Linked DNA regions of Homo sapiens: all the other regions are reported to be linked to region 1. Evidence: microRNA targets listed by miRTarBase, many of them from high-throughput screens and not tested one by one. Region 1 holds a microRNA gene; each other region holds the end of a gene's coding sequence. Distances are between the middles of the regions.
Evidence for each region. The annotated mature microRNA hsa-miR-6873-5p reads CAGAGGGAAUACAGAGGGCAAU and lies in region 1 at 1,460-1,481, shown strand. An mRNA with a match to its seed (bases 2 to 7 or 8) in the 3' UTR can be bound and repressed. Matches are read on the target gene's strand: a 7mer-m8 pairs with bases 2 to 8, a 7mer-A1 pairs with bases 2 to 7 and ends in A, and an 8mer does both.

Region 2: miRTarBase lists TERB2 as a target of hsa-miR-6873-5p. Seed matches in the 3' UTR shown: 7mer-m8 at 904-910.
Region 3: the mRNA of DARS1 is a reported target of hsa-miR-6873-5p. Seed matches in the 3' UTR shown: 8mer at 6,004-6,011.
Region 4: the mRNA of SOD2 is a reported target of hsa-miR-6873-5p. The part of its 3' UTR that is shown has no 7-base or 8-base seed match.

What each region holds. Positions count from the first base shown.
Region 1 is chr6:33,281,027-33,288,743 of GRCh38, reverse strand. It overlaps MIR6873 (microRNA 6873), which reads left to right and starts at 1,455; the gene lies at 1,455-1,517. It overlaps WDR46 (WD repeat domain 46), which reads left to right. Exons shown (of 15, transcript NM_005452.6): 3 at 50-130; 4 at 274-386; 5 at 509-596; 6 at 718-779; 7 at 1,026-1,130; 8 at 1,239-1,389; 9 at 1,518-1,653; 10 at 1,850-1,949. RefSeq lists enhancers at 445-978, 979-1,512.
Region 2 is chr15:44,978,052-44,986,030 of GRCh38, forward strand. It overlaps TERB2 (telomere repeat binding bouquet formation protein 2), which reads left to right. Exons shown (of 7, transcript NM_152448.3): 7 at 438-1,178. The coding sequence ends at 577. Among named protein-coding and RNA genes, the nearest start is that of TERB2, 25 kb to the left of the region's middle. RefSeq lists a silencer at 2,027-2,227.
Region 3 is chr2:135,900,322-135,908,300 of GRCh38, forward strand. It overlaps DARS1 (aspartyl-tRNA synthetase 1), which reads right to left. Exons shown (of 16, transcript NM_001349.4): 16 at 5,560-7,086. The coding sequence ends at 6,995. Among named protein-coding and RNA genes, the nearest start is that of MCM6, 28 kb to the left of the region's middle.
Region 4 is chr6:159,674,860-159,682,838 of GRCh38, reverse strand. SOD2 (superoxide dismutase 2) reads left to right here. Exons shown (of 5, transcript NM_000636.4): 5 at 201-7,979. The coding sequence ends at 346. Among named protein-coding and RNA genes, the nearest start is that of SOD2, 14 kb to the left of the region's middle.

The DNA.
Region 1 (7,717 bases):
TTGGGGTCAATCCAAGGCTGTCTGCTAATTGCGTCCTCCTTTCCCCTAGACCCAAGATCCATTCCCAGGCCCCGCCCCCGTCCCTGTGGAAGTGGTCCAGAAGTTCTGTCGCATTGACAAATCCCGAAAGGTGAGGTCCAGCCGGAGAGTTGGGAAGTGCTGGAGGCAGGGAGTGTCTGGGTGAGTTGGATGGAGGCTGGGACAGGTAGCTCTCCTGTGACCCCACTTATCCTGTGGTTCTTCTGCCACTCCTCCCCACCAACAATGTTACAGCTACCACATTCTAAAGCCAAAACTCGAAGCCGACTTGAGGTGGCTGAAGCTGAGGAAGAGGAAACAAGTATCAAAGCTGCTCGTTCTGAGCTGCTGCTTGCTGAAGAACCTGGGTGAGTGAGCCCTAATCTGGACCCCCATTCCCTGCCTTTTGGGACTGTCTTTTCTCGTTTTTATGTTGGTATACTTGCTTCATATTGGGAAGCTTTACTGCCATCCTAACCCTTGCTTTCAGGTTTCTGGAAGGGGAGGATGGGGAAGACACAGCAAAGATATGCCAGGCTGACATTGTGGAGGCTGTGGACATTGCAAGTGCAGCCAAGGTGAGCCTGAGGAGGTAAAGGAGCCAAGGGATTGATTGGTGGTGCAGGACAATAGAGGAATGGGGGCTAGAAGAAGGCGTTACTGCAGGGCACTCTTTTTTTTCACTCTTCTCTTTCCCAGCACTTTGACTTGAATCTGCGGCAGTTTGGACCCTACAGACTAAACTACTCTCGAACTGGAAGGTAAGGTTGAATTCTAGTGACTCTTGAACTAAGATGTGTTTCCTTAACCACTTCAGCCATTCCCAGTGTATGTTTGGGTTGCTGATGAGGGGAGGGTCCTTCGATTTGCTTGGGTGTGAGGGTAAGCACCTACAGCAACATGTGTCTGCCCGCCTGGAGAGATGGGGCTGGCGTGGGGCAGACCTCAAGTTGTCTGAGTCGGTGGTCCCCTGCCTTAACACCCTGCCTGCCCCTCACCTCCAACAGACACCTGGCTTTTGGAGGGCGCCGAGGTCATGTGGCTGCCCTTGATTGGGTAACAAAGAAGCTTATGTGCGAGATCAACGTCATGGAGGCGGTGCGGGACATCCGGTCAGTGGCCTCACTGTCAGCGGTCAGTTGGGGTGAGATAGTCCATTCCTGATTGAATGATAGCCTGTGACCTCATTTCCCAATTGAACCACTCTTCCTCTCCCCCAGGTTTCTCCATTCTGAGGCACTGCTTGCTGTTGCTCAGAACCGCTGGCTCCACATCTATGACAATCAGGGCATTGAGCTCCACTGTATCCGCCGCTGTGACCGAGTAACACGGCTTGAGTTCCTGCCCTTCCACTTCCTCCTGGCTACAGCTGTGAGTGGCCATGGAGCTCAGGAACTGGTTGGAAGCCCTTGGGATGACCACCTCTCCTTTAGGACCCCAGCAGAGGGAATACAGAGGGCAATCAGGACTGGGTCATTCTCTCTGTCTTTCTCTCTCAGTCAGAAACAGGGTTTCTAACCTACCTGGATGTGTCAGTGGGGAAGATTGTGGCAGCTCTGAATGCTCGAGCTGGGCGGCTCGATGTTATGAGTCAGAACCCTTACAATGCCGTCATCCATCTCGGACACAGCAATGGTCAGTACCTGGCTTAGTTTTGACTCTGACCATCCTGACTTGCTTTTCTTCTATATTTGTACTTCATGAGTCCCTTAAAGTTACCCTTTTATTTCCCTTTTTTGTTATCTCTTGGTCTTGAGTTCCCATCTTTCCCATGTTTAGTAACCTCAGGCTTAGGTGTGTATTAGCAACTTTGGTTCTTCTTCTCTTCCAGGTACTGTGTCTTTATGGAGTCCAGCTATGAAGGAGCCACTGGCAAAGATTCTCTGTCATCGTGGTGGGGTCCGGGCTGTGGCAGTAGATTCTACAGGCACGTAAGTCACTGGTGGGGTGAGGTGTTAGGAGTCATAGGTGGGCAGAAAGGTGTGGAAGGCAGTGTGCTTTAGGAGCACAGAGTCTAAAGCCAGGATGCCCAGGTTTAAATCGCAGTGTTACCACGGATGGGCCTTGCAAGTATAGGCATATTTCATAACCTCTGTGTGCCACAGTTTCCTGACCCCGAAAATGGAAATATGAGTGTCCATTTCAAGGGTCCACAAACTTTTTCTGTAAAGAGTCAGATAGTAAATATTTTATGATTTGCTGATAAGAGGTAAAATCAAAGGGTACCATGTAGGCATTTAAATACCAAGAGAAAACAAATTATCACAACTTTTTTTTTTGAGATGGAGTCTCGCTCTGACACCCAGGCTGGAGTGCAATGGCGCAATCTCAGCTCACTGCAACCTCCACCTCTCAGGTTCAAGTGATTCTCCTGCCTTGGCCTCTCGAGTATCTGGGACTACAGGCGCCTGCTACAACACCTGGCTAATTTTTGTATTTTTAGTAGAGACAGGGTTTCAGCATGTTGTTCAGGCTGGTCTCGAATTCCTGACCTCAAGTGATCTGCCCGCCTCAGCCTCCCAAAGTGCTGGGATTATAGGCGTGAGCCACTGCGCCTGACCTTTTTTTTTTTAAATCTTTTGAGAGAGACGTAGTCTTGCTCTGTCTCCCAGGTTGGAGTGCAGTGGCGTGATCTCGGCTCACTGCAACCTCCGCCTCCCAGATTCAAGCGATTCTCCTGCCTCAGTCTCCCAAGTAGCTGGGATTACAGGCACCTGCCATCATGCCCAGCTAATTTTGTATTTTTTTGTAGAGACGGGGTTTTACTGTGTTGGCCAGGCTGGTCTTGAACTCCTGACCTCAGATGATCTGCCCGCCTCGGCCTCCCAAAGTGTTGGGATTACAGGCGTGAGCCACTGCGCCTGGCCCACACATTTTTAGGTTATAAAATTAAACGTAATATGGCCAGGTGCGGTGGCTCACGCCTGTAATCCCAGCACTTTGGAGGCCAAGGCGGGTGGATCGCCTGAGGTCAGGAGTTTGAGACCAGCCTGGCCAACATGGCGAAACTCTGTCTCTACTAAAAATTCACAAAATTAGCCGGGTGTCGTGGCGGGGGCCTGTAATTCCGGCAACTTGGGAGGCTGAGGCAGGAGAATTGCTTGAACCTGGGAGGCAGGGGTTGCAGTGAGCCAAGACTGTGCCATTGCACTCCAACCTGGGCAACAAGAGCAAAACTCCGTCTCAAAAACAAACAAACAAACAAAACATAATATGAGACTGGACACAGTGGCTCATGCCTGTAATCTTAACAGTTTGGTAGGCTGAGGTGGGCAGATCACTTGAGCCCAGAAGTTCGAAACAAGCCATGTCACCCATGACATGGCAAAACTCTGTCTCTACAGAAGATAGAAAAATTAGCCGGGTGTGGTGGTGCATGCCTGTAGTCCCAGCTACTCAGGAGGCTGAGGTGATCCTCCCACCTCAGCCCAGGAGGTTAAGGCTGCAGTGAGCTGTGATCATGCCACTGCACTCTAGCATGGGCAACAGAGTGAGACCCGGTCTCAGAAAAAAAAAATAATAATAATCAAATATATTTGTGTAATACAGATCTACTAATGGGAAGAACTGAATTTCTCTTTTTGAGGTTAACATTTTGCCTAATTGATGTACAAAGTTAGTGTTCCAGATGGTCAAATTTGACTGTAGATATTCATGTTCATGCTGATCTGTAGAGATTGCAAGTATTTCATCTTTGAAAACATCTTTTCACACAGGTAATGATAGGTGATATGTGAGGTGCTTGAAATGCTGTGAAGCACTTACGACTGTGTCACTGTGACTTGTAGTGTACAAAGCAGCAGTGCAAATCAGGATGCTGTAGTCGCTGTCGTGACCACTCGGCTGTGTGTTGTAGAGCAAAAGCAGCCACAGTATTAAGTAAATAGTGTGGCCCCGTTCCAATAAAACTTTATTTGTTGGATATTGGAATTTGAATTTCATACGGTTTTCACAGTCTCAAAATATTCTTTTGATTTTTTTTCAACCACTTAAAAATGTAAAAACCATTCTTGGCTTGTGGGCTATACAGAACTAGATGATGGGCCAGGTTTGGCCCATGGGCAGTAGTTTACCAAGCCTTGGTTTAAAGCCCTCATATAAGCTGTTGTAGACATTAAGATGAGTTAAGGCATATAGTTTAGCACAGCGCTTAGCAAAATAGGGAGCGCTGTGTTCATCATTGTCATTCAAGATGATCGTTCTCTCCAGGTCTGGCTGATGTGAGGGGTGGAGGTGGTGTCTGCTTTGGATTTCTGCTGTTCCTGAGGGAGTATCTGCATTTTCCACAGCTTTTCTGTCTGATTTGTATTTTCCTCTGATTCCTTTTGTCATCAGGTATTCACTGGGCACCTGCTGTGGGCAGGGCTCTGCGCTGAGGTTCTGGAGACAAAAGGATGAATCGTTGAGCCTGCCCTGGTGTGGTGCTCCCGTTATCCTTTAGGTATAAAAACTTGTGGCTATTTTTTTTTTTTTTTTGAGACAGAGTCTTGATCTGTCACCCAGGCTGGAGTGCAGTGGCACAATCTCAGCTCACCACAACCTCTGCCCCCCGGGGTTCAAGCGATTCTCCTGCCTCAGCCTCCTGAGTAGCTGGGATTACAGGCGCCCACGAACCACGCCCAGTTAATTTTTTAATGTTTAGTAGAGATGGGGTTTCACCATCTTGGCCAGGCTGATCTTGAACTCCTGACATCGTGATCCACCTGCTTCGGCCTCCCAAAGTGCAAGTGTTGGGATTACAGGCGTGAGCCACTGCACCCGGCCATGGCTATGGTTTTTGAGAATGATTGGCCAGGTGATGCATTTATTTATTTTATTACTATTTTTCGAGACGGAGTCTTGATCTATCACCCAGGCTGGAGTGCAGTGGCGCGATCTCGGTTCATTACAACCTCCGCCTCCTAGGCTCAAGTGATTGTTCTGCCTCAGCCTCCAAGTAGCTGGGAGTACAAGTGCATGCCACTGCATGCGCTAATTTTTGTATTTTTAGTAGAGATGGGGTTTTGCCATGTTGGCTTGGCTGGTCTCAAACTCCTGACCTCAGGTGATCCACCCACCTCGGCCTCCCAAAGTGCTGGGATTACAGGCATGAGCCACCACGCCTAGCTCAGGTGATGCCATTAGTTTCTACACAGTTATCCTCTGTCATCCCAGACTCAATGTGTCCATCACTGGATAGGTCACCGCCTCCTAAAGTTTCTCTTGACCTGCTCTCATCTCCCAGAATTTTCCTGTCACCCAGAATTTGACTCAGGTACACACCACCACACCTGGATAATTTTTCTATTTTTTGTAGAGATGGGGTTTCACCATGTAGCCCAGGCTGGTCTCTGTCTTGAACTCCTGGGCTCAAGCGGTCCTCCTACCTCAACCTCCCAAAGTACTGGGATTACAGAGTAATTACTGTGAGCCACCACATCCAGCTTGGCCACCAGCTTATTCAAAGTCTCCAGGATGCTGGGACCACCCCCCCCACCACCCGCTCCCTGTTTTTGCATAATTGTATCTTTTTTTTTTGAGACGGAGTCTCACTCTGTCACCCAGGCTGGAGTGCAATGGTGTGGTCTCGGCTCACTGCAACCTCCACCTCCTGGGTTCAAGCGATTCTCCTGCCTCAGCCTCCTGAGAAGCTGGGACTACAGGTGTGTGCCACCACACCCGGCTAATTTTTGTATTTGTAGTACAGATGGAATTTCACCATGTTGGCCAGGCTGGTCTTGAACTCCTGACCTTGTGATCCACCCGCCTGTCCTCCCAAAGTGCTGGGATTATAGGCGTGAGCCACCGTGTCTGGCCTTTGTAATTGTATCTTTGTGAATGAGTGATTTGGTTCTGCCCTTTTTACTCCATATTTATACCAGCCTGGCTCTAGGAGAGTCAGAAGGCCTGCCCAAGGGTTTCTGCCCTCTCTGGGCCACTGGGCCAAAGCTGTAGCTTGCCCTCCGTGGGCTACCTGGGTCAGCCACTCCTGTGCTTAGGGCTTAATCACTAGTTCGCTGAGGCCTGAAGTTTAATCAACACCTTGAGGCTAAACAGCTCTGGTCCTTGTGATCTTCAGCCCATCCCTGCTTTTCTCTGGTCCTCCTCAGGAGCTTGTCAGGCCACGGGGGCTCCAGTGATGAGGCTGACCATCTTTCTTAAGAGGTGTTCTGGTAGCTTGTATTATGATTGGATTGCGTTGACTTCTCAAAGCCGAACTGCTGCTTACTAGTAGTACAGTAGACTCCCATTTGGCACTGGGCTGGTCTTTACCCAGGGGTCCCATAGATGGGTGTGTGGAGGGGAGAAGAGCCAGCATGCATCCTTGAGTTGTTAGTTCACCAAAGGATGTGACCCTGTGTTCCACGAGCGCTCGGTAATTCCTGGTTTGCACTGATGGCCTTTCTCTTTGGTAAAGTCAGGGCGCTGATTATCTTGTCGGAAGTATCCAGCTGGTCCTCTCTTGGGCTCCATCACTGTGCAAGTCTCTGCTCATAAGAACTCTTCAGTTCCCTTCTCCTGGGTTCACAGCCAAGGCAAAAAAGAGACTCCTTGGCCTCTTGGCAAACATACATCCCCTACCTGGCTGGTCCCCCTTCAGCTTCCCTCTCTAAGGAACAACTTGAACATAGAAACTCCAACCTCACCTGTAATCCCAGCACTCTGGGAGGCCAAGGTGGGCAGGTCATTTGAGGCCAGGAGTTCAAGACCAGCGTGGTCAACATGGCGAAACCCTGGCTCTACTAAAAATTAGCGGTGGTGGCGCATGCCTGTAATCCCAGCTACTTGGGAGGCTGAGGCACGAGAATCACTTGAACCAGGGAGGCAGAGGCTGCAGTGAGCCAGGGTCATGCCACTGCACTCCAGCTTGGGCAACAGAGAGACCCTGTCTCAAAAAAAGAAAAGGAACTCCAACTTCTGAAAGTAAACAACTTATGCAGTACATGATTCCTGGAGAGGATTTGGTCACCAACCTTCCCTCCTTCCTTCCAGGGAAAGCACACAGAGGGGCAGGGCAAGGGCCTCCAGTGCATTACTTCACCACTTCCCTGAGTAGGTCTTCTCAAGTCCTTGGAGCCTTCACTTTGTGATTTGTCACTGCCAGAGAGCAATGTTGGGATCATGAGCTGTGGGTCCTCAGTCTGACTTTAAAGAAACCTCACAAATTGTCTGCTCCTGATTTTCCTGACCATGTTTCCCACCAATCCTAACAAACCTCTGCTTCCCTCTCAGTCTCAACACTCTGGTGTTAATGCATTTGAACCTGCTGTGTATCTACTTCCTGTAATTTTTTGAGAATTATCTAGAATGGCTCAAATCCCACCTTTCCCATGAAGCCTTTCTGACCACTGCACATGCTCCTTCCCCTTGCTGGGCTGTGTGCTGCATGTGTGTACAGGGGGACATCACATTTGGGTGCAGCCTGTCGTGTGGGCGTTCCTTTTGACGCCCGTGTCTTGAGAGGGCTGTGTGGTGTTAGCAGGTTAGAGGCAGATGCTAAAGAGACAGGCCTGACCATTCACTGACCTAGCTTTCCTTTCCCTGAGCTTCAGTTTCCTCACCTCTTAAAGGGAAATAAAAATAGTATGAGTTGTGTGCAGCTTAACTGAGAGGATGCCTGTGGAGTGTTCAGGGTGATGGCAGTGGTTATTACTATTAATCTTTTTCTCCCCAGCCAGACTTGATGCCTGGACTTGGCCACAGCTTGCTTGGTAAACCC
Region 2 (7,979 bases), not on the chromosome of region 1:
ATTCCAGTGTTAGCAGTGCAGGAAAGTGTTGCCTGCTGGAACAGGGAAGATGAACTGTTTGCACTGTTAGTAGCTAGTTGGATGGATAGTTCTAAGTGATTACCGTCTAAGCTAGAAACACTTCCCAGTTATTTTTATCTAAGTTCTTTTATGTCCTAGCCCCAACCTAGACATCACAATCTCAATAGTCAAAGCAGCTTTAATCCACCTTTTAATATTTTAAAAGGTGGCAGAAAGTTGTGGGAGGGGAAGAGGAGGTGTTCCCGGATAATTATAAGGTTTCATGGAGAATCTTCTCACTGGTATTATTTCTTCTTTTTACTTCTTTTCTAAAAACATTCTTTAGAAGTCTTAACTCTAATAAATCAAAGACACTGAAAAGCAAATAGTATGAGCGGGTTTTAAGTATATATCTTTTTTTAAATTTTATTTTGTAGGTTATATATCAATTGATGCCATGAAGAAATTCCTTGGGGAGCTACATGACTTCATTCCTGGAACCTCAGGATATTTGGCATATCATGTTCAAAATGAAATTAATATGTCTGCTATAAAAAACAAATTGAAGAGGAAATAGTAAATTAAATTGTAAATACCTTGGCATTTATTTTCTATAAAATATTATACAGATGTGCATATCATAAAATGCTCCCTTTTGGTACTGGGGGATAGTGAAATGGGAAATAATTTTTCTGTTTCTCAAAGTATATCTTTAGGAAATACAGAATCATTTTGGTTCTGTGTTTTGACATTTTTCCCCTAGCTTTTAACAACATGTTCAAATATTCTCAATGCACAGTTGTTAATGAGTAATTGCCGTTAAAATATATTTCATAAGAAGTCTCAATCTCAAACTCTCCATCTCTCAATCCTCCTCCTCCTCCTCTTTCTTGCTTTCTCTTTTCCCTCTCTCTTTCTCTCCTCCCCTTCTCTCTTTCTGTCTTTCAAATGTTCTTTTGGCTTTAACATTCTATTAATTATATTTTTTCTAGATTGAATACTGTGAATGCTAAGTTTTATTAATCTGGTCATCTTATTTTGATTTTAAAAATTAGGATGCTAGTTGCATTCTGAATTACTGTTTCTGGTTTGAAACATGGAGAAAAACATTTTAATAATTCATATTTCATGTTGGATGGTTTCTAATAATAAATATCTCAAAAGTGACTTAACATAAACAGACTATGAGTGTTATGTCTTGTTAGATGAACCTGCAAGTCACCTTAGAATCACAGTTCTAGAATGGAACTTAAAGAACGAGTCCAGTTCACTTATTGTTTTTAATGAGGAAATAAGGACCTTGAGAAGATGTCTTACTTAGGGGGACTAACTGGGGGCCAAAACAGAATTGGAACACAACCATCTTGATTTTCTAGGCAAGTGCTTCCCCACTCTCCCAAATAGCATACGCTGTAGCTTCTGTGCCAGGTACAATACAACTGCAGATCCGCAAAGCAGACCCAGAAACAAGCCAACATGCTTGCCTTTTAATAAGCTGAAATAGTGAGGGAGAAGAAAAGGAAAAATCAGTTAGGCAGACCACTAAGGCTAGTCTTCTGAGAAAGAGCCTGAAAAAATCACAGCTACAGGCATAAATAGAGCAGCCTGGGGAAAAACCAAACTGCACCTGCACTGATAAGAAGGCAAGGCCCAGCATAGAGCCTTTGTTCTTTGTGTGATTAGCAGGCTCTCAGGAAAAAAATTCCTCCCATTTTCAGGCATTTACATGGTGGGCTCTGTGGGAACTTGCACAGGGAGGTGAGGGGCTTGCCTAAAACAGACCCACAGTTACACAAACAAGAGAAGCTGCACTTTGTGCTTACCCAAGATATACAAAGATAAGGAGAGTTACATACACAGCTTCATAGATAAGGGAAGTTACACAAACAGCTACAGAGTTGAGGGGAGTTTCACATAAAAGCTTTTGGATTCAACTGTAAAAACAGCAGCTCACTCGGGTCCGTTCTCCACTGTGGAGAGCTTTCTTTCTTTTGCTTATAAAAGTTTTGCTCCAACCTCACCCTTGTGTCCAGCCTCCTTAATTTTCTTGGTTGTGAAACAATGAGCTCAGATAACACCTCAAACTACAAGACCATTGACCCTAGACAGTTTCATTAGTATTGAGTTGTAGTCATTTCAAGAAGGCAGTTTGTTATCTTTATTCATATGGCCATGCTATATAGAGTCTGATTGGTTTATTACATTTTTGTGTCTTATAAATGACAGTGTTATTTGTGAAGCTATCATCTTAGAACTGTACTTCTTCCAAGCAAGTGAATACCAGCTGTAGAATTATCTAAAGAAAATGCACACTTTTTTTTAGTGCTTGGACCATTTGGGTATATGTGGGCCCTGGCCCTGGCCCTTCTCCCCTGACTCAAATTTCATAAGACAAAATTTTAACACTACTTTTGGCATCAGCATTTGAGAATTATATTTTTCCATATGATAACTTTTCCTTATTTATATTCACATCTGTGGTTAAGCCCTTCAGATCTTGTAAATTACACAAAAAACAGAAAAGACAAAAACCTTAAATGTTAATTATCTTTCCCTGAAACACATTTCTCCTGAATACTTTATCGTAGTTACATACCATTGATTGTTTCTTGTATAGAAACCAAGCCTGTCTGTAAATCTTAAATTAATGACTAAGAGGATTAAGTAAATGTACACCAAGTTGTGTATGTTGGAATTTCTTGAAAGAGAGTATCCAGTATTTTTCTGATATATTATGCATGTGTAAATTAAAAATTATAATGAAACAGTTTTTTAGGTTTGTTTCCCAAAGTGATTATATCTTTAGGTGTATATAATAAAGCAAAATGTAACCTATATCCTTGAAATATTGTCAGGCACAATAAAATCAGTGATAACATAAGCCTTCCAGGAATTAGAAGCATATGAAAAAATAAAATAAGCAAAGTTGAACTAGTTTTAAGTTTATTGTCTTAATGGGAAGTGAAAAGCAATATGATCTTAGTTACTGCTCATGTAACCTTTTTTAAAAAATTGCTTTAATGTAGCTGATGGATATTGCCTCTGAATATCCTTATAAAAAATGTTCTCTGGCCGGGCACGGTGGCTCAGGCCTGTAATCCCAGCACTTTGGGAGGCCAAGGTGGGCAGATCATGAGGTCAGGAGATTGAGATCATCCTGGCCAACAAGGTGAAATCCCGTCTCTACTAAAAATACAAAAATTAGCTGGGCATGGCGGCACGTGCCTGTAATCCCAGCTACTCAGGAGGCTGAGGCAGGAGAATCCCTTGAACCTGGGAGGTGGAGGTTGCAGGAAATAATATGGAATTGTAGTAGAGATAAAAGAAATTAATAAAATAGGAAACAAACTTACAATAGAAATGATCAACAAATCAAGAAGTTGAGTTTTGAAGACTAAAAGAAATTTATAAATTTCTGACTGGATTGGCCAAGAGAAAGAAAGAAGGCACAGATAATATCAAAAATGAAGAGAGGAATACTTCTCAGATTCTAGAGACATTTAAAAAAATTATGACCAAATTAATGTCAATAAATTTGAACATTTACATGAACTATTTAAATTTCTAGGAAATATATCTTACTAAAACTGCCATGAAAAAGAGAAAATCTGAGCAGTCCTTTAACTGGGAAAAATAGTGATTTTATAATATTAAAAATCTTCCTACAGCCCCACTAATTACTAGATTTTGTCATCTTAGTGAGCTATGTAACTTGTTTCCGCATCTGAGAAATGAAGATAGTAACAATGCCATAGTAATATTGAAGGATTAAATGAGAAAATGCCTGTAAAAGTGCATTGCACAGGGCCTAGCATTTGCCACATGATCAATGCAGCTTGCCTTTATTAGTTTCCTTTACAGCTATGGTGTATCACTGAGTGCAGAATGTGTGTGTTCTTCAGGCTCCCTTGTGTGCAGGCTCTGAAAGGTAAAGGGGCCTGCTCTTTGTTCTGAAGTAAAACTGCTCAGGGCATTAGGTGGATCTGAAATTTAAAAATAAAATTGAAAGTAAATCAATCTTTTCCTTAAATCAGATTGTCTCTGCTTTTGTTTTGCACACCTGCCTCAATATCAGTCTTGGAATTTTTTTCCTGCTGTTGTGGGTGCAATTTTTGTGATATGTACAGAACCACCTACCCTACTCCAGGCCTTGGATCCTGACCTTAGTGGCTTGGAAAAGGCTGTCACTTAGAATTTACACTCCAGTCCTCACTATCACTGTCTCCATTCTTCTTCCATCTCCCCACCCTGGGGTGATTTCCCAGCCTGCTATTTGATTTTCCATTCGTATGGTTCCCCTAATCTCCAGAGCATGTAGTACTCACTAGCCAGAGTATTGCCCATGTCTTCTGTGTTACATAAAGTTATTCCCAGCGTATCTGATCTCTTCTCATCCTTTCTCTGTCACTCGGGGGCTTTGCTCAACCTGGTTGTGTCACAATCTTTTTTTTTTCTTTTTTCTTTTGAGATGGGTTCTCGCTCTGTCGCCCAGGTTGGAGTGCAGTGGCGCGATCTTAGCTCACTGCAACCTCCCCCTCCTGGGTTCAAGCCTTCTCCTGCCTCAGCCTCCGGAGTAGCTGGGACTACAAGCGCCCGCCACCACGCCCAGCTAATTTGTGTGTGTCTGTGTGTGTGTGTATTTTTAGTAGAGACGGGGTTTCACCATGTTAGCCAGGATGGTCTCGATCTCCTGACTTCGTGATCCACCCACCTCGACCGCCCAAAGTGCTGGGATTACAGGCGCGAGCCAACGCGCCGGGCCGGTTGTGTCACAATCTTTAGGAGATTCCCTCTTTCTTGATCAGAGAGCCCTTCACTCCATTCCTTGCCTCTGCAATCATGAGGGTGTGACACAGATGAAGGTGTGACACAGATCTCATCTCTTCCTGGAATTCCCAATCTCAAGAGCTTTTCTTCATGGTGTTGCTGACTTAAACGAGGGTGCCTGCCAACTGTGGGGCCCTCACCCCATTTAAAGAGGTTCGTTTCCTTGTCACAGTGTTGTGATTTATTTCACTTTGCTCTTATCTTTAAAATCGGGTTCATTTCCTTGTCCTACTTAGGCTCCTCACCATACCTACTCTGTATTGTGTTTCTTCTTCATTTGTCAGATTTTTTTTTTTTTTTTTTTTTGAGACAGGGTCTTGCTCTATGGTCAGGCTGAAGTGCAGTGGTGCGATCTCGGCTCACCGCAACCTCTGCCTCCTGGGGTTCAAGCGATTCTCCTGCCTCAGGCTCCTGAGTAGCTGGGACTACAGGCATGCACCACCAAGCCCGGATAATTTTGGTATTTTTAGTAGAGATGGTGTTTCACCATGCTGGCCAGGATGGTTTGTGTCTCTTGACCTCATGATCCACCCGCCTCGGCCTCCCAAAGTGCTGGGATTACAGGCGTGAGATACCACACCCAGTCCATCTGTCAGATTTTTAAAAGCTGTTTCTTTCCCTCTCTCCATTCCCACCTGTCCAAATCCTGTCCTTCTTTCAGGCATCATCTCAAAGGATATCTCTGAATGAAACTTCTTTGGCAACCTCCTCTTCTTGCCCCCTCTCCCCACAGGACTCTAGTCCACTTAGAGCACTTAGGTTACTCAAACTAAAGTTATAATTATTTGTGTACACCTGCCAAAGGCCCCTACTACATTGTTAGGTACTTGAAGGCAAGGATTATTTCTTACTAATCTTTGCAGCTCCCACAGCACCCAGCACAGTGCCTGGAATATGGGAGTTACTCAGGAACTATTTGATGAATTGAATTCATACATGTAAGGATACAGAAGATAAAGAAAAGTATTTCCTTCAGTTTCCAGACTGGGACCCAACAGTGCCCTGTTTCACTGTTTATTAGGAAGCAGGTTGTATGGACCTGGAGGTGCCAGATAAAACGAAGGCTTCCATAATACACATTCATTCATCAACCCTGCTAGGGTTGTCTCATTCATTCATTTACGCACTCATTCAACAAACATTTGTTGATGACACAGTGCTAAACTCACGCTTTTTTTTCTTTTCCTGTAAAGTGAGATAACAGGGAGTGGGACCCTTCCATTAAGGCATTTATAATCTGGTTGGAGAGTTGGAAATATAAACAACTGACTGTAAGGCAAAGTGAAGTAGGTGCTAGAATAACATATAGGTCAAATTCTCTGAGAGCACTAGTCCTTGGTTTCTGCAGGGCAGAAAAGAGGGATATCGGAAAAAATCAGGATGGTTCAGAAGAAGGGTAACTTTGTTTTTCCTGGTGGACTCATAGCATCACCATGATAACAACAACCAGGCCCTGAAAGGGGGAAATCCTGTCATTTCCAGCAACAACATGGATGAGTCTGGAGGTCATTATGCTAAGTGAAATAAGCCAGGCACAGAAACATAAATACCACATGATCTCACTTATATGTGGAATCTAATAAAGTTGAACTCATAGAAGTAGAAAGTAGAACAATGGTTAACAGAGGCTTGGGAGAAGGTGGGGAGGGAGAGAATGGGGAATTATTGATTAAAGGGTACAAAATTTCAGATAGACAGGAGGAACAGGTTTTGAGATCTACTGCACATCAGGGTGACTATAGTCAATGGTAATATATATTTCAAAATAGCTACGAGTAAATTTCAAATGTCTCACTATAAAAAATAATAGGTAAGTGAAGTGATGGATGTGTTAATCAGCTTGATTTAATCATGCCAATTGTATACATACATCAAAACATCACATTTTACTCCATAAATATATACAACAAAGATTTGTTAAAAAAAAAAAAAAAACGTGAGCGGTCATTGTGGCTCACACCTTTACAGGTTCCCAGCATTTTGGGTGGCCCAGGCAGGAGGATTGCTTGAGGCCAGCCTGGGCAACATATTTTGTTGCCGTATATGAAAAAAAAAAGTCCCCCTGAGCTTTTCTGGCCCACCTCTCATGAAATCCCTGGCACTGTCTCTGCATTTGATGAGAGTGCGAGGTAGAGTGGGTAGGAGCAGGCAAGTCAAGTTGCTGTAGACCTGTGCTGTCTAATATAGCAAGATGTAGCTAGTGGGCACTTGAAATGTGGCTAGTCTGAACTGAGATGTATTAAGTGTGAAATACACCTTGGATTGTGAAGACTTAGCACAAAAAAAGAGTTATTTTTATTTTTATTTTTTGAGACAGAGTCTCACTACATCACCCAGGCTGCAGTCCAGTGGCACCATCTCTGCTCACTACAACCTCGTGCCTCTCAGGTTCAAGTGATTCTTGTGCCTCAGCCTCCTGAGCAGCTGGGATTATAGGCATGTGCCACCAAGCCCGACTAATTTTTGAATTGTATTTGTATTTATTTAATTTTTATTTTTTGTTTTAATTTTTGTATTTTTAGTAGAGGTGGTATTTCACCATGTTGGCCAAGCTGTTCTCAAACTGCTGAACTCAAGTGATCTGCCAGCCTCGGCCTCCCAAAGTGCTGGGATTACAGGTGTGAGCCACCGTGCCCAGCCAAAAACAGAATAATTTTCATGTTGATTAGATGTTAAAATCATATTTAGGATATATTGGTTTAAATAAAATATATTGTTGAAATTAATTTCACCTTTTTTTTTTTTTTTTTTTTTTTTTTTTTTACTTTTTTAATGTGGCTACTTGACCATTTAAAGTTAGGTACACCCTGGGCAATATAGGGTGTAGACCCTCGTCTCTAGAAAAAAAATAATTAGTTGAGCATGGTGATGCATCCTTGTAGTCCCAGCTGCACGGGAGGCTGAGGCAAGAGGATCACTTGAGCCCATGGGTTCAAAGTTGCAATGAGCTATGATTGTGCCACTGCACTCCAGCTTGGGTGACAGAGTGAGACTCTGTCTCTAAAAATATAAATAAATAAAACTGTACATGGCCCACATTATACAGTTGGCCCTTCATATCTGTGGGTACTGCTTCTGTGGATTGAACCAACTGTGGATCAAATATACCTGGAAAAAAATAACAATACAACAATAAAAATAAATTTTAAAAA
Region 3 (7,979 bases), not on the chromosome of region 1:
GCTGAGGCGGGCAGATCACTTGAGGTCAGGAGTTTGAGACCAGCCTGGCCAACGTGGTGAAACCCCATCTATACTAAAAATACAAACAAAACAAAACAAAACAAAAAAAAACAACAACAGGCAAAAGACATGAACAGACGCTTCTCAAAAGAAGACACACAGCCAACAAGCATATGAAGAAATGCTCAATATCAATCATTAGAGAAATGCAAATAAAAACCACAGTGAGGTACCATCTCACACCAGTGAGGATAGCTATTATTAAGAAGCCAAAAAATAGCAGATGCTGGTGAGGTTGTGGAGAAAGGAAGTGTTTAAACACTGCTGGTGGGAATGTAAATTAGTTCAGCTACTATGGAAAGCAATTTGGAAATTTCTCAAAAAAACGTAAAACAGAACTACCCATTCAACCTAACAATCCCATTACTGGGTATATACCCAAGGAATATAATCATTCTACCCGAAAGACATATGCATGTATGTTCATCACAGCACTATTCACAATAGTAAAGACATGGAATCAACCTAAATGGCCATCAACAGTGGACTGGATAAAGAAAATGTGGTACACTTATAGCACGGAATACTATGTAACCATAGAAAAGAGTGAGATAATGTCCTTTGCAGCAACATGATGGAGCTGGAGGCCATTATCCTAAGCAAATTAATGCAGGAACAGAAAACCAAATACTGCATGTTCTTACTTACAAGTGGGTGCTAAACATTTAGTACACATGAACATAAGAAGGAGGAATAGACACCGGGGCCTACTTGAGGGTCAAGGGGGGGAGGAGGGTGAGGATTGAAAAACTACCTGTAATTTTCTTACAAACACCTACTCCAGAAAAAGAGACAAAAACAAAACAAAACAAAAAACTACCTATGTTTATTACCTGGGTGGTGAAATAATCTTTACTCCAAAACCTCCTCAACATGCAATTTACCCGTGTAGCAAACTGGCATATGTACCCCCTGAACCTAAAATAAAAGTTGGAAAAAACAAAATTCATGTTGAAACTTAATCCCCATTGTGGTGGTATTGAGGTGGGGCCTTTTGGGAAGTGATTAAGTCATGAGGCTGTGCCCTCACGAATGGATTATCCACCTTATTAAGGGGCTGGAGAGTAGTTTAGACCCTTTCTTGACCTTCTGTTCCTTCTGCCATGTGAGGATACAGCATTTATTCCCTCCAGAGGATGCAGCAACAAGGCACCATCTTCGAAGAAGGGACTGGGTCCCTCACCAGTCACTGCTGGCACCCTGATCTTGGACTTCTCAGCCTCCAGAACTATGAGAAATAAATTTCTGTTTTTTAAAATTACCCAATCTATGGTATTTTGTTATAGTAGTACAGACCAAGACAGTACACTTACATAATCCAGAAAATATACTCTTAGGTATCTATCCAAAAGAAATAGAAACATGTCTATATAAAGACTTGCAAATGATTGCTCACAGCAGCATTATTCATTATAGATTAAAAACTGGAAGCTACCTAGATATCCATTAACTGGTGAATGGATAAACAAATTATGGTATATCTATTCTACGGAATACTACTCAATAAAAAGAAACACATTATTAATATATGCAACAACATGGATCTCAAAAAATTATGCTTAATGGAAGAAGTTAAATACAAAAGACTGCATACTGTATTGTTCTGTTTATATGAAATTCTAGAAAAGGCAAAAACAGACCTTGAGTTGCTAGCAATGGGGACTGACTATAAAGATACACTATGAAACTTTCTGGGGCAGTGGAAATGTTCTGTAGCTTGAGTATGGTGAAGGTTAATTGACTCTATACAATTACCAAAATTCATAAAACTGTACACTTAAAATTAATTTTGTTGTGTATACCTGAACAAAATGAAAAAAATTTAAATAAAATTATCAAATTGAATTCAGTATATATACAAAATTTATTTTAAAAATGTTTATTTTTAGAGACAGGTTTTCACTGTGTCACCCAGGCTAGGGTATGGTGATACAATCATAGCTCACAGTACCTTGAATGCCTGAGCTCTAGTCATCCTCCTGCCTCAGCCTCCCAAGTAGTTAGGACTATAAGCATGTGCCGCCATACTGGCTAATTTTATTTTTTGTACAGATGAGGTCTTGCTATGTTGCCCATGCCCAGCTGCATACACAAAATAATATGTAGTGATCAAACAGTATTTATTCCAGAAAAACAGTATCAGGGATTTCTGTTATTATAGCCCACTGTATCCAAACAACATGAAAAAATCACAGCAAATACTGATAAAGTATTTGACAAATTCAAAATTTATTCATAATAGAAAATGAACTAATAAAATCTCCATTAACCTGATAAAAGACATTTATTAAAAATCTAAAGGCCAGGCGAAGTGATTCATGCCTGTATATCCCAGCATTTTGGGAGGCTGAGGCAGGTGGATCTCTTGAGTCCAGGAATTCGAGACCAGACTGAGCAACATACATTTTTTTGTCTCTACAAAAAAATACAAAAAATTAGCTGGGTGTGGTGACATGCACGTGTAGTCCCAGTTACTTGGGAGGCTGAGGTGGGAGGATTGCTTGAGCCTGGGTGGTCGAGACTGCAGTGAGCTGAGATTGCACCACTGCACTCTAGCCTGGGTAAGAGAGCAAGGCCCTGTCTCAAAAACAAAACAAAACAAAAAAAAAAACACACAACGAAAACAAAAACCACCTACAGAAATTATCACACTTAATCTCAAGACTTTAGTATTTAAATAAAAACAATACAAGCATGCCTCCATCACTGCTTTTATTCAACACTCTACTGAAGAACTAATCTAATGCAATCGGCAAATATAAGAATGAGACAGGAAGACTAAACTCTTATTTTGCCCCACACTATTCTGTGTTCTACACTTTTTAATTCCCATAATAGTCTCATGATGTAGGATTATGCAAATGAGGAAAGCTGAGGATAAGCAAGTTATCCAAGGTTATACATTAATGTAAGAGCAAAACCAGAATCTGAACCCAGGCAGTGTGGCTAACAGAATCCATACTTTTTACTGTTATGCTATCCCTTCTCACACCTCTCCATCTACCTTGAAAATACAAGATATTCAATACAAACTATTAGAAAGAGTAAGAGATCAAGAATACTGCTGCATAAAATGGCAACATATAAAAATTGATAACTGAGGCCAGGCGCGGTGGCTCACGTCTGTAATCCCAGCACTTTGGGAGGCCGAGGCGGGCGGATCACGAGGTCAGGAGATCGAGACCATCCTGGCTAACACGGTGAAACCCTGTCTCTACTAAAAATACAAAAAAATTAGCCATCTAAGAAAAAAAAATTGATAACTGATAGTGTTCTTTACCCTTGTAACAATTTAAAAATGTCACGGAAAAGATCCCAATCCTGCTACCAAGCAGAAGGGGCTCACTGCCCAATGCTCTAAGCCAATAAAATGACACTGGGTTTTTGAGAAAAGCTTTCTATTTCAAGTGACTTACAAGGAGACAGGAGTGCAGCTCAAATTGCTCTCTCTGTGCTGGTGTTAAGGCAGTGATTTTATCCTTCAGGGGGCGGATTCTGGGATTAGTAGGTGATTGGTGGAAGAGGTCTGGAAAGTTCTTCGGCATGTGTAGTTACCTCTTTATGGGTCCCATGTGCCAATTTGGAGGTAGTTAGTATAAAATATGTGGTGAAACTTTAGGCTGTAACATTAGCAAGCTTGCTGTGTAAACTCTAGTTAGCAATATTGCTTTTAACTGATTTTAGACAGTTTTGTTATAAGGGAGGGGAGTGTTAGTAAGTTGTTTTTTCTTATCTGTTTATCCTCCACACCCAAGAATTTGTTACTCAACTTTTTTTTTTTTTTTAACTCCTTGGGGCATGGTTTCATTCCCAATAGAAAAAACAAAACAAAACACTGTAAGGTGTTCTAACATAAACTGGAAAATTAAAAGCAGTTTTAATATGCTAATGTTAAGTAAAACTACAGTGAACAAAGTACTGTCTATATTATGATTGAATTCATGGGAAACATTTATTTCCGGGCTGAAGCCGAAAAAATACACAAGCTGGGCGTGGTGGCTCATGCCTGTAATCCCAGCACTCTAGGGGGCCAAGGCAGGTGGATTGCTTGAGCCCAGGAGTTCAAGACCAGCCTGGGCAACATGACAACTACTACATGTCTTTACTAAACATACAAAAGTTAGCTGGGTGTGGTGGTGTGCGCCTGCAGTCCCAGCTACCTTAGGAGGCTGAGGTAGACTGCTTGAGCCCAGGAGGTGGAGGATACAGTGAGTTGAGATCCTGCCCCTGCACTCCAGCCTGGGCAACAGGGTGAGATCTTTCAAATTTTGTTACACTGAATATTTTGTTTTCAAGAGTACTCATTAAATCCTGCCCACAAAAAAACACTAAGCTACCTCACCAGTTTCTCCCTTCATCACATGATTAGCAGATCCTTGGCAAGGCTGTTCTGACTCAGCTGAAATATCTTCAGATCTGCAAAGCACAAGGATATAGAGCTAAAATGGAAAGATATTTGCTTCCAGCATTAACAGTACTAAATTCTTTGATAATCTTGAGAATAAAATGCTGATAGGATAAATAATAACATCACACAAAAAGCAAAACACTTTTAAAGTATAAAATAAAAATGTTTTACTACAATTAAAAAAATCAATAAATGAAGAGATATACCATGTTCATCCACTGGAAGACTAAAGAGAGGGAAATTCCAAGTCTTTTCAAATTATTCTATAAATTTAAGGTAGTTCCAATGAAAATCTCAGGATTTACATATCAAATAAATCTGCAAAACAATATTAGACATTTATAGAAACATAAATATTTAGTGAAAATATAAAAACAAAAGAATAAAAGTTTGAATTCATATAATAGTTTCCTATAAGAGGGTACCTTAACTGCCCACAATTTCTTTTTTTTTTGATTTCTTTTCTCTTTAAAAAATAAAGTAAGGGCCAGGCACAGTGGCTCACACCTGTAATCCCAGCACTTTGGGATGCCCAGGCAGGCGGATCACCCCTGAGGTCAGGAGTTTGAGATCAGCCTGGCCAACATGGAGAAATCCCGTCTCTACTAAAAATACAAAAATTGGCTGGGCATGGTGGTGGGAGCCTGTAATCCCACCTACTTGGGAGGCTGAGGAGAATCGCTTGAACCGGGGAGGTGGAGGTTGCAGTGAGCTGAGATCATGCCACTGCACTCCAGCCTAGGCCACAGAGCAAGACTTGTCTCAAAAAAATAAATAAATAAGAGGTCAGGTGCAGCGGCTCACACCTGTAATCCCAGCACTTTAGGAGGTGAAGGCAGGTGGATCGCTTGAGGCCAGAAGTTCAAGACCAGACTGGGCAACATGGAGAAATCTTACCTCTACCAAAATACAAAAATTAGCCAGTCTCATAACCTGGTCTCAAAACAAATACATAAAAATAAAAAAAAATATTTGAAGCAAATATGATAAAGATTTGATAAGACTGGATAATAGGTACAAGTGTATTTTATCATGTTCTAATTTGGTCAGCATGTTTGAAAACCTTCACAATAAAAAAGATTACATCATTCTAAGACTTTACAAACTTTATTTTGAAACAAGCTATAATTACATGAAATTAAGAACAGCTCTAGGGCCAATATTATTGTACTATTTTAGGGTCTAGCAATTACACACTATAGAAGATGGATATTTTATTCTTGCTGTGGATTAAATTATGAAATACTTTTGGGGTGCCTTCTATATTTAAGGTATTCTGGTAGGATATGAAAGAAAAAAATAAGAACTGAATCTAAACTTTCAAAGACTGTACAATATAGATGGTAAACACCCCCTTTAACTTTCAAACATAATGGGCAGATGTTCGTGGTCCAGGGGTAACTTCCTAACTTTTTGACCCTCATATTTTTCTGCATGTAATTTTTTCTTCCTGTACAAAAATATGTTATGTTTTGTTCCTCCCCAATATTTGTGGTCATGTAAAATTAACATTAGCATCAACATTTGTAATAATCTAGAGGGAAAGTGTTTCTAACTAATTCTTACACAAAAATTTCTTTTTGACGGATAAGATGGGACTGGATTTTACTGACATTCACTAAGTATCAGTACCATTCCAGTTAAAAATCAAACAAAATTCTGCAATATATTTTAACCCATGTGAAATGAACTCTGTCAACCGACCCAAGCTGTCAACTTTAAGAGCTCTATCCCTACGCCCATCTAAACTAATATCCTGAAATGAATACATGTTGACAACATATTAGTCTTTATTTATATAAACTAGTTGTGTATTTTTTCTTTTACCAAATTATGAATGCCTAGCACCACTTACAAAATCAGTTGGCCACAAAGTTACACAAAAACTACAATTAGCTTTAAAATTTTATTGAAATTCAAGTTTAGAATTTAACAAATTAATACAATATTACACTGAATACTTTCTAACCAGTAGTTTAGCTTTACATAATTTCTAGGCATAACTTTTAAGAACTGATACTTTCTGGTTAATTTTCCATGATATGCCAATTATACATTCATTAAAATTTCAGATGCTACCTGAATTATTCTTATCTCAATGACAGAATTTAAAAAAATAAGTTCAAATACTGAAAATCTAAGACATTAACACTGGGGCCCTTGTAATATAGAAAAGAAGAAAAATTGTACAATCTTAACTGTTTAAAACTCTTAACGTTTACTGTAGTAACAGAATATGAATTTGTAACATAACCATATGAATTTCTCAAGTTATTTCCTACTGATGCATGTCTGAAGTTATAAAAATCTCTTTTAAACGAACCTATACTGAATTACTCCAAAAATAACAGTGATATTTTAGGGCCTTGCAAATTTATTCTAGTGCATATTTTAAGTACCTAAAGTACAGCCTGTGCACTAGCAGGTTACTGAAAAGAATAAGTGTGGCTTTCTTTTTTTTTTTTTTTTTTTGAGGCAGGGTCTCGCTCTGTCATCCACACTGGAGTTAAGTGGCAAAGTGTGAATTTAAGGAGTGAGTCGTTTGGGATCACGAGGGAACATGGAGGTCTGACGAACATTATGCAATCCCAGAAACAGCATAGTAACTCGTTCCAATCCTGGGGAAGACAAAAATAATCATTAATTCCTTTTTGAAAATCTCTCAGGGTCTTACTTAGAACTACAAACATAAATGTAATCGTTAAACTAAATACTTTTCCTTGTTAGGAAAGAAAATGACTCTTATTATTTTGGGTTTATTTAAAACTGTTTTGAGTATTGATTCAGAAATAAAGATGCTGCTATAAATGAAAAGGACTAAGTAATATATCCTTGAGTGGTATGGAGTCTAAAATGTGAACCACAAAAATCTATACGAATGAACAAAATCTATGATGTAACAATAAGAAAAACAAAACAAAAGACTTTATAAGCTTGAACGTTTCAAATGATACCACACTCTGATTATACAGTCCAGGCAATGAGGATGAGAGCCATAAACTTGCTTAAGCAATAATAGAAGTATGAGAAAATTTACTGTTAATTTTATAGACATTTAACATGGTGGACCCTACGATAAAAAGCTCTGGAGTACATTATTATACTAAGTGTTTTGACTGTAAAGAAGAAACTGATTTTTGGAAGGTGGTTAACAAGATTATGGTCTCTCCTTTCAATTGATTCTATGTAGAGATGTAAAAAGAATGAAAAAGCTCTTCAGGTATTGATAGGAAACAAGTTACAAGATACATTAAAGTATTTCTTCTCCATCCGGACTCATATTAAAAAAATGATACATTAAGTAAAAAATGCAAAGTACTAAATGGTTTATATATAATAGTATGCTACAATTTGTGTAAAAATATTTAAAGAAATGTGTGTGTCTTTTCGTATATGAAAAGGTATCTTTGCAAAGGTTAAGCTGAAAACTAGAAACAATGCTTTCCTGTAGGGAGGCGAATACGCACTATTCTTTTTCCTCCTCCAATTTAAAAAACAGCGTTAAAATACA
Region 4 (7,979 bases), 130 Mb from region 1:
CTTTGTAAACAGTGAATTAAAAATATTTTATAGGAATATTCATTCTTATCTAGATTTCCTACTTATATAAAAAAACAAGTGAATGAGATTGTTACAAAGGGTAATTTTGTGTGAGTAGAATAATAAAAGTTGAAATTGAGAAGATGCAATGTTTTAGACTGAAACTGATGGTTGGTTTGTTTTCCCCTTCTTTCTAACAGGCCTTATTCCACTGCTGGGGATTGATGTGTGGGAGCACGCTTACTACCTTCAGTATAAAAATGTCAGGCCTGATTATCTAAAAGCTATTTGGAATGTAATCAACTGGGAGAATGTAACTGAAAGATACATGGCTTGCAAAAAGTAAACCACGATCGTTATGCTGAGTATGTTAAGCTCTTTATGACTGTTTTTGTAGTGGTATAGAGTACTGCAGAATACAGTAAGCTGCTCTATTGTAGCATTTCTTGATGTTGCTTAGTCACTTATTTCATAAACAACTTAATGTTCTGAATAATTTCTTACTAAACATTTTGTTATTGGGCAAGTGATTGAAAATAGTAAATGCTTTGTGTGATTGAATCTGATTGGACATTTTCTTCAGAGAGCTAAATTACAATTGTCATTTATAAAACCATCAAAAATATTCCATCCATATACTTTGGGGACTTGTAGGGATGCCTTTCTAGTCCTATTCTATTGCAGTTATAGAAAATCTAGTCTTTTGCCCCAGTTACTTAAAAATAAAATATTAACACTTTCCCAAGGGAAACACTCGGCTTTCTATAGAAAATTGCACTTTTTGTCGAGTAATCCTCTGCAGTGATACTTCTGGTAGATGTCACCCAGTGGTTTTTGTTAGGTCAAATGTTCCTGTATAGTTTTTGCAAATAGAGCTGTATACTGTTTAAATGTAGCAGGTGAACTGAACTGGGGTTTGCTCACCTGCACAGTAAAGGCAAACTTCAACAGCAAAACTGCAAAAAGGTGGTTTTTGCAGTAGGAGAAAGGAGGATGTTTATTTGCAGGGCGCCAAGCAAGGAGAATTGGGCAGCTCATGCTTGAGACCCAATCTCCATGATGACCTACAAGCTAGAGTATTTAAAGGCAGTGGTAAATTTCAGGAAAGCAGAAGTTAAAGGCAAAATTGTAAATCAGTCGAGATCGGGTGCCTTCAGGGTGGTATGGCTGTATACCAAAATTGTAAATCACTACATGAAGCTTATATATTGGTTTGGCCTGAAAGGTGAAGTGGGGTAGGCAGGGGGCGGGCTTACAGGTTATGGTGGATTCAAAGACTCCCTGATTTGTGATTGGTTAAGGAAGCAAAGCTTTGTCTAAAAACTTGGGGTCCGCAGAAAGGAACATTAAGGTCTGGCCAGGCCCCTCAGGAAGAAACTGAGAGCAAAGAATGGAGGTCAGAGTTTAGTCCCTGGTGTTCCCCCTTATCTGACGTCTGTGTGAATCCATTTGGTGGGGGTCTGGGTTTCTGAAAAGTAGCTCAGGGGCACGTGTTAAGGATGTCTCTAGGTGACTCTAACTTCCCTGGCTATTGTTTGAAACTGTTATGACCTTCTTGCTTATCAGCTTGCTGGTTTCCTTCTCGGGGCGAGCTGGGTGCCTGGAGTTTTCGGTGAAGGAAACTCAAGATTCTCCTTTATTTCTGTGCTTGTGGGAATCCCCCTGGCACACCCCAAAGAGGGGTCCCTGCTCCGTCTCACAGGGATCTTTTTGTATATTTGGCTTAGCATCATACATTTGCCATGTTGTTTCATCATCTGCCTAATTTACTGTTTTTGAATATTTCATTTGTTTCTAATTGTTACTACAGATAATGCTGGGGTGAGCAACTCTGTGTACATAGGTTTATCTCCTATTGGAATATTTTCTTTATATAGGCGTTTTTTTTTTTTCTTTTTTTTTGGAGACAGAGTCTTGCTCTGTTGCCCAGGCTGGAGTGCAGTGGCGCGACCGGAGCTCACTGCAACCTCCACTTCCCGGGTTCAAGTGATTGTCCCACCTCAGCCTCCTGAATAGCTGGGATTACAGGTGCATGCTACCATGCCTGGCTACTTTTTGTATTTTTAGCAGAGACAGGGTTTCACCATGTTGGCCAGGGTGGTCTCGAACTCCTGACCTCAAGTGATCCGTCTGGCTCAGCCTCCCAAAGTGCTGGGATTACAGGTGTGAGCCACTGCACCTGGCCTATATAGGCTTTTTTCTTAAACCTATTTAGTAATGTTTTCCCAAGTTTATTTTTTATTTTTAATTTTTTCCCCAAGTTTATTTTTCTATTTTTTTTTCATGGAAAAATGGGGTAACTTAGCAGTTTCAATATTGAAGACTGAAGTTTAAAAAAAATTTAAATTCAAGGTACTTTTAAAATTCAGTTAGAAAAGTAGGCTTTAAAAATTATTAGAGACAAGAGTACCAAAGCGGTGTGTGTATGTGTGTGTGTGTATGCATGCTTGTGGATTGGAAAAACTTTGGAGACTGATTACTTTTCATTATATATGTGTCACAGTGAAACAGCTTTTATGTGTCATGTAAGATTACTGCTTGCCTCTCTAAGGAAGGTCGTGACTGTTTAAATAGACGGGCAAGGTGGAACCTTTTGAAAGATGAGCTTTTGAATATAAGTTGTCTGCTAGATCATGGTTTGTATTGAACTAACAAGGTTTGCAGATCTGCTGACTTATATAAAGCTTTTTGATTCCTACTAAGCTTTAAGATTTAAAAAATGTTCAATGTTGAAATTTCTGTGGGGCTCTATTTTTGCTTTGGCTTTCTGGTGAGAGAGTGAGGAAGCATTCTTTCCTTCACTAAGTTTGTCTTTCTTGTCTTCTGGATAGATTGATTTTAAGAGACTAAGGGAATTTACAAACTAAAGATTTTAGTCATCTGGTGGAAAAGGAGACTTTAAGATTGTTTAGGGCTGGGCGGGGTGACTCACATCTGTAATCCCAGCACTTTGGGAGGCCAAGGCAGGCAGAACACTTGAAGGAGTTCAAGACCAGCGTGGCCAACGTGGTGAAACCCTGTCTCTACTAAAAATACAAAAATTGTTTAGCTCTGTTTTTCATAATAGAAATAGAAAAGGTAAAATTGCTTTTCTTCTGAAAAGAACAAGTATTGTTCATCCAAGAAGGGTTTTTGTGACTGAATCAGCAGTGCCTGCCCTAGTCATAGCTGTGCTTCAAAAACCTCAGCATGATTAGTGTTGGAGCAAAACAAGGAAGCAAAGCAAATACTGTTTTTGAAATTCTATCTGTTGCTTGAACTATTTTGTAATAATTAAACTTTGATGTTGAGAAATCACAACTTTATTGTACACTTCATTGCAACTTGAAATTCATGGTCTTAAAGTGAGATTTGAATTTCTATTGAGCGCCTTTAAAAAAGTAATACCAAACCATAAAGTTAAAATCTATGTATATTGAGTCATATCTAAAACCACGTATAAACATAAATTGTATTTCCTGTTTTAATTCCAGGGGAAGTACTGTTTGGGAAAGCTATTATTAGGTAAATGTTTTACAAATTACTGTTTCTCACTTTCAGTCATACCCTAATGATCCCAGCAAGATAATGTCCTGTCTTCTAAGATGTGCATCAAGCCTGGTACATACTGAAAACCCTATAAGGTCCTGGATAATTTTTGTTTGATTATTCATTGAAGAAACATTTATTTTCCAATTGTGTGAAGTTTTTGACTGTTAATAAAAGAATCTGTCAACCATCAAAGAGGTCTGCATTATGCTTGCATGTCAAAAACTTTAAAAATCCTATAATCTTCTGTCATTTTCACTGAGTTTCCATGGGAAAGGAATAGTAAATAATGGGTAGTTGAAATATTACTCTTAAGACCAAGACCTGTATCTCCAGTCATATCTGTAATAACATCATCTGATAACCTAAAAGCATAGTATTAGGGATATACGACAAAACCAAAGTGTTTTTGCTGTTGTCACATACCACTCAATACTTTTACACCAGGTTGTCCAGTGGACACCAGCTGGATGTCCTATAATTCAATTCTGACACTGTCTACCTGGAATTGGAGTCAGATCCCACAGGTGGAGGGCTCAGCCCACAAGACTGCCCCCACTCCAGATACCAATCGCAAGTCCCTATACTTCTGACTGGCTATAAAGTGGGGTTCCCGTGACCCTTTCCTTGGTTTTGATTTATTTGCTAGAGCAGCTCCCAGAACACAGAGAAACACTCTACTTATGTTTACCCATTTTTAATTTTATTACTTTATTAAAACTACATATTGGTTACAATACTAATTTATTGTAAAGGATATTTCATTTATTTATTTTTTTATTTAGAGATGGAGTCTCACTGTGTCACCCAGGCTGGAGTGCGGTGGCACAGTCTCAACTCACTGCAACCTCCACCTCCTGAGTTCAAGCGATTCTCATGCCTCAGCCTCCCAAGTAGCTGGGATTACAAGTGTGCACCACCATGCCCAGCTAATTTTTGTATTTTTAGTAGAGATGGGGTTTCACTCTGTTGGCCAGGCTGGTCTCAAACTCCTGACCTCAAGTCATCCACCCACCTCAGCCTCCCAAAGTGCTGAGATTACAGGTGTGAGCCATTGCCTCTGGCTTGTAAAGGATATTTCAAAGAATACAGATGAACAGCCAGATGGAAGAGATGCACAGGGCAAGGCATGTGGGAAGGGGTATGGAGCTTTCATGCTCTCTCCACGTCATCAGCTACCCAGAAGCTCATCTGGACCCCGACCCTTTGGGGTTTTACGGAGGCTTCATTATGTCAGCATTACCATTGGCAATTGGCGATTAACTCAACCTTCAGCCTCTCTCCCCTTTCTGGAGGTTGGGGGTTGAGGCTGGGAGTCCAAACCCTCCAATCTTGCCTTGGTCTTTCTGGTAAGCAGCCCCCCGTCCTGAAGCTACCTAGAGGCTCCCAGCCACCAATCATTTCATTGGCAAACCAAAGATACTTCAAGGGGTTTAGGAGCCAAGAGACCAAGCAAGGATTGAGACAATATATATATTTCTTATAAATAACATGATCACAAATAGTATTTTATATATTTCTCATAATAGCTGGTTGTGGTTACTCACACCTATCATCCCAGCTACTAAGAAGCTAAGGCAGGAGGATCACAGGCCCAGGAGTTTGCAGCTGTAGTGAGCTATGATTGTGCTACTGCACTCCAGCCTGGGTGACAGTGTGAGACCCTGTCTCTTAAAGTTCTTGTAACATCTTAGAACATTAACCAACCACAGATTATTGCCTTAACTCTGAAAAATAAAGTAATCATACTTTTACAAGATGTATTTTACATAAAGTTCTGGTGATATTTTACTCTGGTCATTGGAATATAGGAGCTTACCACCTGGTACCACTCTTCCTAAAGTGGTATACTATTTGGTATAGTACTGGCATACTATTTGGAAAGGGATGTGAAGTTGGCATGACCTGTCTAGGGTGAAGTCATGCTGTCTGCTATTCATTGTGGGCTTTACAGTAATGAGAGTGCTTCTGTTGTCAAGATGCTTCTGGGACACGTTAAAAAAAATTTAAGATTTCTCAGTTTGTGAAAAGGAAGGAGCACGAATGCTTTCAAGTTCCTATGACATGCTAGTCATCTTTCAGTGTGTCCCATTGTTGCACCCAGTAGTCTCGATGCCCAGCGTCACGGTGATTCCAAGTTTGCCTCTCTGCCCACTATAATTTGTGCTCCATGAAGTCCCAGGACATGAGGTTCTTGTTCATTTGTGCGTCTGGGCCCATATCCAAATATTAAACAATGTGACTTAATGTATTTATCATATTGTAAATATGGGTATCCCCAAGGCTCAGAAGTTAACACAGCATATCCACAGAGAGGTTTGACAGCATGGCTGTGGTGACTGGGAAGGCCTTATGCTTGCTCCTCCTTCTGCTGCTTGCCTTTGTGTGGGCATGGAAAGAACATTGAATTAGGTACTGGAAGACCTGGGTCCTGGTCTTGGAGATTTTACCAGAGCACCTGTGGGATATTGGTCAAGATGCCTGGTTTTAGTCCTGCTCCTTTGCTGTGAAAGAGGATCTTAAGGTGCCAACTCTGGCATTTTATTTTTTACTTATTTATTTTTAAATTATACTTTAAGTTCTAGGGTACATGTGTACAACATGCAGGTTTGTTACATGTATACATGTGCCATGTTGGTGTGCTGCACCTATTAACTCGTCATTTACATTAGGTATATCTCCTAATGCTATCCCTCCCCCTTCTCCCCACCCCTCGACAGGCCCCGGTGTGTGATGTTCCCCTTCCTGTGTCCAAGTGTTCTCATTGTTCAATTCCCATCTATGAGTGAGAACATGCGGTGTTTGTTTTTTTGTCCTTGGAATAGTTTGCTGAGAAGGATGGTTTCCAGCTTCATCCATGTCCCTATAAAGGACATGAACTCTTCCTTTTTTATGGCTGCATAGTATTCCATGGTGTATATGTGCCACATCTTCTTAAACCAATCTATCATTGATGGACATTTGGGTTGGTTCCAAGTCTTTGCTATTGTGAACAGTGCCACAATAAATATACGTGTGCATGTGTCTTTATAGCAGCATGATTTATAATCCTTTGGGTATATACCCAGTAATGGGATGGCTGGGTCAAATGGTATTTCTAGTTCTAGATCCCTGAGGAATCGCCACACTGTCTTCCACAATGGTTGAACTAGTTTACAGTCCCACCACCAGTGTAAAAGTGTTCCTATTTCTCCACATCCTCTCCAGCACCTGTTGTTTCCTGACTTTTTAATGATTGACATTCTAACTGGTGTGAGATGGTATCTCATTGTGGTTTTGATTTGCATTTCTCTGATGGCCCATGATGATGAGCATTTTTTTCATGTGTCTGTTGGATGCATGGATGTCTTCTTTTGAGAAGTGTCTCTTCATATCCTTCACCTACTTTTTGATGGGGTTTGTTTTTTTCTTGTAAGTTTGTTTGAGTTCCTTGTAGATTCTGGATATTAGCCCTTTGTCAGATGAGTAGATTGCAAAAATTTTCTCCCATTTTGTAGGTTGCCTGTTCACTCTGATGGTAGTTTCTTTTGCTGTGCAGAAGCTCTTGAGTTTAATGAGATCCCATTTGTCAATTTTGGCTTCTGTTGCCATTGCTTTTGGTGTTTTAGACATGAAGTCCTTGCCCATGCCTGTGTCCTGAATGGTACTGCATAGGTTTTCTTCTAGGGTTTTTATGGTTTTAGGTCTAACATTTAAGTCTTTAATCCATCTTGAATTAATTTTTGTATAAGGTGTAAGGAAGGGATCCAGTTTCAGCTTTCTACATGTGGCTAGCCAGTTTTCCCAGCACCATTTATTAAATAGGGAATCCTTTCCCCATTTCTTGTTTTTGTCAGGTTTCTCAAAGATCAGATAGTTGTAGATGTGTGGTATTATTTCTGAGGGCTCTGTTCTGTTCCATTGGTCTATATCTCTGTTTTGGTACTAGTACCATGCTGTTTTGGTTACTGCAGCCTTGTAGTATAGTTTGAAATCAGGTAGCGTGATGCCTCCAGCTTTGTTCTTTTGGCTTAGGATCGTTTTGGCAGTGCAGGCTCTTTTTTGGTTCCACATGAACTTTAAAGTAGTTTTTTCCAATTCTATGAAGAAAGTCATGGGTAGCTTGATGGGGATGGCATTGAATCTATAAATTACCTTGGGCAGTATAGCCATTTTCACGATATTGATTCTTCCTATCCATGAGCATGGAATGTTCTTCCATTTGTTTGTGTCCTCTTTTATTTCCTTGAGCAGTGGTTTGTAGTTCTCCTTGAAGAGGTCCTTCACATCCCTTGTAAGTTGGATTCCTAGGTATTTTATTCTCTTTGAGGCAGTTGTGAATGGGAGTTCACTCATGATTTGGCTCTCTGTTTGTCTGTTGTTGGTGTATAAGAATGCTTGTGATTTTTGCACATTGATTTTGTATCCTGAGATTTTGCTGAAGTTGCTTATCAAATTAAGGAGATTTTGGG